2 linked regions of the Homo sapiens genome follow. The protein of the gene in region 1 interacts with the protein of each later gene in a pairwise test. Each region holds a gene or a part of one and is shown in the gene's direction. Other genes may lie near its edges. The genes, in order: HEMGN and DCC.

Region 1 (3,830 bases):
ACAAAATGTCTCCAAACATTGTCAAAAGTCTTCTGGGGTGGGGTTGGGGGAAGACAGGCAAAATCATCCCCAGTTGAGAACCACTAATTTAAGCAAAGCACTCTTCCTAAGAAAGGGCATTTTCCAATCCCCAAACCCCGCTGTGGACTGAGCACTGTCTGTTCTGCTACAACAGATGTTTCTATAACACCAAGTTCACATACGATTGATAAATAGGAGAATGATGTCAGTATAATGTGGGGGTTGTGTTGGTTCATGATTTTTTCCTAGTCAGAAGAAAGCAGAATAGTGGGAAGAGAATTAAAGCTTTCAGCTGGAAAGAAAAAGCCTTCAGCTTGGCTGTTGTATAAGCAGGATTCTTTTCAGCCAGCATCCAGGGTTCCCTCCTCAGAGAGGCACAACACCAGCCTTGCGCAGCTCTCCATCAAGTGGCAGCTTGCACTTCCCTCCTGTGCCCAACTTAACGGCAACCCCGCTGGCTCAGAGCTCAGGTCTCAGCAGCTTCAAGCCTGCAATTACACTATATTTGCATTTACTATCCCCTGAGGCAGCCTCCAGCCACAGTAAACTGCTTGTCTAGACCATCCAAGTTCTCTCTCCTGGTACCAATTATTGTTTTAGTTAGTGTTAAAATGTTGCAAGGGTTTTGAATCATTTGTCCCAAGCCTATTTGCCCCACCTCCATAACCACTGTAACTTTATAGAGGATGATTTTGCAGAAAGTGAGGTTTTTTTAGGAACACGTGTATCATTTTACAGTAGAAATATTTGTATTAGGGTCCTGTGGCAGGTCTATTGAAGATTATCCAATTAGCTCCCAAATTCCATACCACTAAGCAATCTTCCAATCATTACTTGGCTTCCCAAGTACTTATCTACAGAGACGGTGCATTTGTTTGGGAGCCCAGAACCCAGGTATTCTCCTCCCCTCCCCTCCCCCCTCCCCTCCCCTCCCCCTCCTCTCCCCCATCCCCTCCTCTCTCCTCCCCTCTCCTCTCCTTTTCTTTTTTCTCTTTCTCTCATTCATTCATTCATTCACTCGTTTTGAGACAGAGTCTCACTCTGCTGCCCAGGCTGGAGTGCAGTGGCACAATCTCGGCTCACTGCAACCTCTGCCTCCCAGGTTCAAGTGACTCTCCTGCCTCAGCTCCCAAGTAGCTGGGAATACAGGCACTGGCCACCACGCCCAGCTAGTTTTTGTATTTTTTAGTAGAGACGGGGTTTCGCCATGATGGCCAGGCTGGTCTGGAACTCCTGGCTTCAAGTGATTCGCCCACCTTGGCCTCCCAAAGTGCTGGGATTACAGGCGTGAGCCACTGTGCCCAGCCAGTCCAGGTATTTTCTACTATGTGACTTTGTATGTCTGTTCATTTAAAAATTGGTCTTTAGGTTTATATGTCAGTCTCCTTAAATCTGCTTGATGAGCTCTGCCCCTGATAAATGGAGGTAGTCTCAGTGTGCTAACAGAATCAGGTTTCTGGGCTTGCTGGGCTGAGGGTATTCACTCAAATGGATAACACCTTAGTGAGCCTCTTGGCAGCTGGCTGGACTTGCTCTGGTGATACATCTCTATAATGCTAAGGCCTGTGCCCTCTTTTCTCACTACAACACACCATACAGTGAAACTTTATTAGTTTCAGAGAGAGGCAGCAGAGTGCATGGTTATGAGCCTGGCTGTTAAAGCCAGAATGACTAGATTCGTAGCCTGGCTCCCCTACTTGGTAGCCAGAGCCCTTGGAAATATTATGGAAAATAAATAATTCTCATTATAAACGAATAGATTGGCACTCTGGTTTATATACTAGTCTCTTTGCATTTAGTCTGTGTGTATTACTTCACTACCCCTGAGTAAACTCATACTCAGGGTTTCTAGACCTGCAATCCAGGCACGGCTCCTTATCTGTGCAGCCTGCAGGTGGATAATGTATATGGCTTGATTATCAAATACAAGTGTTGGGCAAGTTACTCAACATCTCTGTGTTTCAGTTTTGTCATTTGCAAAATGAAAATAATAACTACCTACTTCATAGACTGATGTGAAGATTATATGAGATAACAAAATAACTAAATTATTTAAACGGTGCCTGACATATACAAGCACTATAAGTGTTTCCTGTATTCATATGAGTCCTAATTTATATTTGAATAATTCATTCATGTAAGTTATTATATATAATTCTTATAACCACCACATGAAATTGGGCCGATATTATTTACCTCATTTCACTTACAAGGAAACCAAGGCATGTAGAGGTTAAGTGACTTGCCCACAACCATGAGAGAGTACAGACTAAAGTTTAGGCCACATAGGTATTTTTTGCATTTTTTGAAAAACTACCTGGGAAGACATGGACTATTACATTACTCAGATCTCCTCATACAGAGATTTAAATAACAACTTCTTTAGGATTTAATATCTAGGAAAAAATATGTGTTTCCTAAGGAACTTGGATTACTATTAATATCTTTTTCAAAAAATTTATCAGAATTTTATGATTTATCTTGTCACCTTGGTTACTTGTAGTAATAGTTCAAAATGCTGAGGTGCCATAACCATCATCTTTAGATTTCCTTTTTTTTTTTTTTTTTGAGACAGAGTCTCATTCTGTCACCCAGGCTGGAGTGCAGTGGCACAATCTCAGCTCACTGCAACCTCCATCTCCTGGGTTCAAGCGATTCTCTTGCCTCAGCCTCCCAAGTAGCTGGGATTACAGACGCGCACCACCATGCCTGGCTAATTTTTGTATTTTTAGTAGAGACGGGGTTTCACTATGTTGGCCAGGCTGGTCTTGAACTCCTGATCTCGTGATCCACCAGCCTCGGCCTCCCAGAGTGCTGGGATTACAGGCGTGAGCCAACGCACCCGGCCTAGATTTCCTTTTTTAAATATAATTTTCAATATTATTTTAGACTGCTCTGTTACATCTATACCTTTTTTTCTTTTTTTCTATAGCCTCATATTAGAAGTGAACATATATACTTTTTTGGTATTGACTTCAAACTGTGTTTGGTGAGGTAATCTTTTAAAAACACTTTTTTACAACGGAAATTTCAAACATACACAAAAAATGGAACAGGGTATACTTTTTTTAAATATGCAAGGAACGATGGGCACTATAAAGATGTAAAAAACACTGGTTTTTATCTCCAAAGACTGTCTAAAATGTTTACTAAAAGAAATACAGTTTCTTCAGAAATAACTACAGTATGAGGCAGCCTACATTCCTTGCCTTTAGCATGGTACACCCAATAAGTCCTATAGGAGTGCTAAGCTGGGAGAGCATTTTAGTCCTGTAGTCTCTTAGAGAAGGCTCCATGGAGCGGGTAGCATGAAACAGAATTTCAGTAGATTTAGAAAAATGATGAAATGCTTATTTATAGTACTTCCCCCAGCCCCCAGCCCCCAGCCCATCTGTATTAGCCATCTGTATTTGGTTGTATTTGCAGTGCCTAACAATTTGTCACTGGCTGCAATTACCATGCATATCCTTTCATCTTCTAGATCTTTAATTTATTAATTAGGAATAGGTATAATATGGCCACTCATGCCTATCTACCTGACTTCTTAACTTCAAGAAGTGCTTTTGCAGCTTTTGACCCCTTACAGTATACCTCATTTGATATATACTGTAGCAACTTAGAATTCTTTACACAAAATAATGTATTTGATAATCAAGCCATATACAGCATCCACCTGCAGGCTGCACAGACGAGGAGCTGTGCCAGGTCTAGAAACTCGATTTGTATGAGTTTACTCAGGGGTAGGGAAGTAACACACAAAGACTAAATGCAAAGAGACTAGTGTATAAACCAGAATGCCACTCTATTAA
Region 2 (3,830 bases), on another chromosome or scaffold:
ATAGCATGTGCTGTTTTAACAAGGAGTCTACAGATTAGTTGGTTTTTAGTGGGGGAGTCTGTGTCACAAGGTAGGTTTTATAGCTCATTAGAAGGCTGGAGTGTAGTTTGTAAGAGTCTAATGTCCAATTCACTGATTGCACAGAATGAGTGCCATTTCTACTTTAATGTGCTTCCTTGATAACAGTTTTGGTGTTTTATGTCTCCAGAATATAGAGGTTGATGGACTATCTTATAAACTGGAAGGCCTGAAAAAATTCACCGAATATAGTCTTCGATTCTTAGCTTATAATCGCTATGGTCCGGGCGTCTCTACTGATGATATAACAGTGGTTACACTTTCTGACGGTAAGTTAAAAACAGTGAAACTCCTTTTACATATTTGACATAATATTGACAATAATGACATGATATTGCACATATATCATATATTCCATTTTCAAGGCTTCCTGACTAAAATTTTATGGACTATTACAGTTAAATGTAAACTTTCTATCAAGATACATACTCCCAGCTGGATGTGGTAGTTCACACAGGTAATCCTAGCACTTTAAGAGACTGAGGCAGGAGGATGAGTTAAGCCTAGGAGTTCAAGACCCACCTGAACAACATAGTGAGACCCTATCTCTGTAAATGTTTTTTTTTTTTTTTTTTAATTAACTGGATATGGTGGCATGCACCTGCGATCCCAGCTACTTGGGAGGCTCATTCTGGAGGATCACTTGAGCCTGGGAGTTCAAGACTGCAGTAAGCTGTGATCGTTCTACTGCACTCCAGCCTGGGCAACAGAGTAAGACCCTTTCTCCAAATTAAATAAATATATATGTATATATGTATATACATATGTATATACTCTTGAGTCAGTATATACTAATAGGTAATCCTCAAAATGTGACTATTGACTAAGAGCTAAAACTTTGTGTATTTTTTATTTCTTTACATTTTCTAATACACATTTGTGCATGTGTGGATTAATTTTGATTGGCATGTTTTATTCCCCCATCTAAAAGTGTGCAGATGATTAAAGGTGTAAATGATAGACAATCCCCCTATATTTACCTCTTAATTAGAAAATATATCAAAAGGAATTAGGCCAAATAAGCTGATATTAAAATTTAAAGTATTAAAATTGAGCATGAAAAATGTGTATGTTGCCTACTAAATGGAAGAATAGACACAAACACACACATTTGAGACAAGAAGTGCAGTGACTCAATTGTGCTTCACTACACCCTTTATTCCTGGGCTCAAGGGCTTTTCTTTTCTTTTCCTTTTTTGGAAACGGAGTCTCGCTCTGTCACCCAGGTTGGCATGCAGTGGTGCAGTCTCAGCTCACTGCAACCTCCACCTCTCGGGTTTAAGTGATTCTCCTGCCCCCAGCCTCCTGAGTACCTGGGATTACAGGTGCATGCCACCACCCCTGGCTAGTTTTTGTATTTTTAGTAGAGACAGAGTTTCACCATGCTGAGCAGGCTGGTCTGGAACTCCTGACCTCAAGTGATCCACCCGCCTTGGCCTCACATAGTGCTGGGATTACAAGCGTGAGCCACTGCACCCAGCCTCAAGGGATTTTCCTGCCGAAGCCTCCCGAGTAGCTGGAACTACAGGCATAGGCCACAGCACCCAGCTAATATTTTTATTTTTTGCAGAGGCAGGGTCTCACTTTGTTGCCCAGGCTAGACCTGTTTTTGAATGCCATAAAAGAGAGGAACAAATCTTAATAAAGAGAATAAATTTGACAAAATAATGGCCAGGGGAAACTAGAAACCTAACTGCTAGATGATCATGAAAGGTTGGGAAATTTTATAAAAAGTGAAAATAAAATACATCAAAGTATATGATGTGGGGCCAACGAAAACTCAGGCAGGTGCAGAAATGTAGCGATAGGCCCTTGTGAATATTAAAAAAGGCCACAAGCTAGCTCTTTTCAGCAACAATTTCCATTTGGTGTGTTTAATTCTATAAATTATTTATCTTTTTAATTAAAAAATGACTTTAGCTTGTGATTTCTTGACAGATCTATCATTGTTTATTCTGGGAAAGTACCTGGGTGTACATTTCACACAATATCAGTGAAATGAGGAAGGGCATGCATATTATTAAGGACAGTACAAAGAGAACACAGGAATAATGCTCATTTGCAAATTCAACTTTAAAATGTATTTTATACGTAATACCACTTTGGTATCATTTTTAATGTAATTCTTAGGCCCATCCATCCAATTCTGTTATTGAAGACAGAACAGAATATTTATTGGTAGAATAAATTACTTCACAACTTATAATTATAAAAATAAAAGAAAAACAAATGAAAGTGAATGTTTTACATAATTTATGTAGATTTCATTCACTCTGAACTGTAATACTGTGGCCTGATTCTCCACTTTGGTTTTAAATGTCATAAGTGAGAAAGATAGATTATTATTCATTAGTCCAAGAATTATCTTCTGGAAATGTTACAATGTTTAGGACTTAGACAGTGTCTGTCAGTATAAAAAAAGTATTTCGTGACCCTAACCCCAATAAACATCACTGTGCAAAGGACACCAAATTCTCTCTCTCAAATGCACTGAAAGGAGATAGCAAGGACTTTATAAGCTTCTTAGAGTGGACACCGTGACCTCGTTTGCATTCATTTTTACAATCAACCCATCTCTTTTAATGTCCAACACAAATGTGTGGCTCTTGGCTTTCATTTCCTTATTATCCAGTTCCTTTCTGTCTACTTCAATCTCATGTCTCCTCCTCTGTCCTGAAGCTGTTCATGCTGAGGTCATATATCACATTGAGTTGTATTTAATCACATTTAATAGTCACCTGCTTCCCAGTCTTCAGTCATGGAGCACTCTTCTTCGTTAACTTTATGTATGTTGTAACAGGTGGATGTTGTGAAAATTAAATGGGCTGATCTGTGTAAACATCTAACAAAGTGTATGACATTTAAGTGTTTAATAAACATTATCTCTACCAAAGTGCACTTCACTTTTTCTCATTATATTAATATTAAATACCCCTAAATATGAAGGATGCTGTTATATTCACCTCTGTTTTCTTCCTGAGTAAATATTTATCGAATTAATTAGACAGCTCAGTCAAAACTGTGCAAATTTCTGTATGCAAAGGCTTATCTTTAGGATTTCCCATTTGTGGAACTAATTTGATATATTAATTTAATATATGACTGTGTCTAAATGCATCTGTATTATAGTGAACATAATAATTCTTTTCATATCAGGAGTCTTACCATAAAAAATATATTGAGACATAGAAAAATTTTTAAAAAAGCAAAAGTTAAGTGTAAATACATTTCTTCCAATTTCATTACTTTATGTTTTTTTTTCCCTGTTCTACTGGGATGCTTGTAAAGATCTTTGTCCAGATGAGCTGTCATCTCTAATTTAGCTCGGCTTTATTTTCTGAGTAGAAACCTTATTTTTTATTCAAATTCCTCCACCTAGAAAACCACTGGTTTACAATGAGCCATTTTTTTTTCACACCACTGAGATTATACAGCATATGATCATCTAAATAATTTTGCCAATTTGTTCCAAAATACTGTCTCTTGCACTAGTTGGTAAGTCACTAAGAGCTTTTATGAACGAATGAACCATTGAAAGTTTCCATGCCAGCTTGTCCTGTGTCCAAATGCAGAAGGACCTGATTTCATAGGCAACATAAGAATGTGCTTATTATTTTTATGAATGTTATTAATATTTCTTGAATACTTACTAATGGAAGGCCCTGATCCAAGTACTTTGCCTTTACCTTTCATCCTCACGATACTACTAAAATTTTCCCTACTTTACAGATGACAAAACTAAGTCAGAAAGA

The links.
Region 2: the proteins of HEMGN (region 1) and DCC interact in a two-hybrid assay, tested with the Homo sapiens proteins (one large-scale study listed by BioGRID and IntAct).

The regions. Positions count from the first base shown.
Region 1 is NC_000009.12:97,931,563-97,935,392, reverse strand, and holds part of HEMGN (hemogen), read left to right. Parts: intron 1-3,830. UniProt on the Homo sapiens protein: Regulates the proliferation and differentiation of hematopoietic cells. Overexpression block the TPA-induced megakaryocytic differentiation in the K562 cell model. May also prevent cell apoptosis through the activation of the nuclear factor-kappa B (NF-kB).
Region 2 is NC_000018.10:53,207,471-53,211,300, forward strand, and holds part of DCC (netrin receptor DCC), read left to right. Parts: intron 1-208; coding exon 209-347; intron 348-3,830. UniProt on the Homo sapiens protein: Receptor for netrin required for axon guidance. Mediates axon attraction of neuronal growth cones in the developing nervous system upon ligand binding. Its association with UNC5 proteins may trigger signaling for axon repulsion.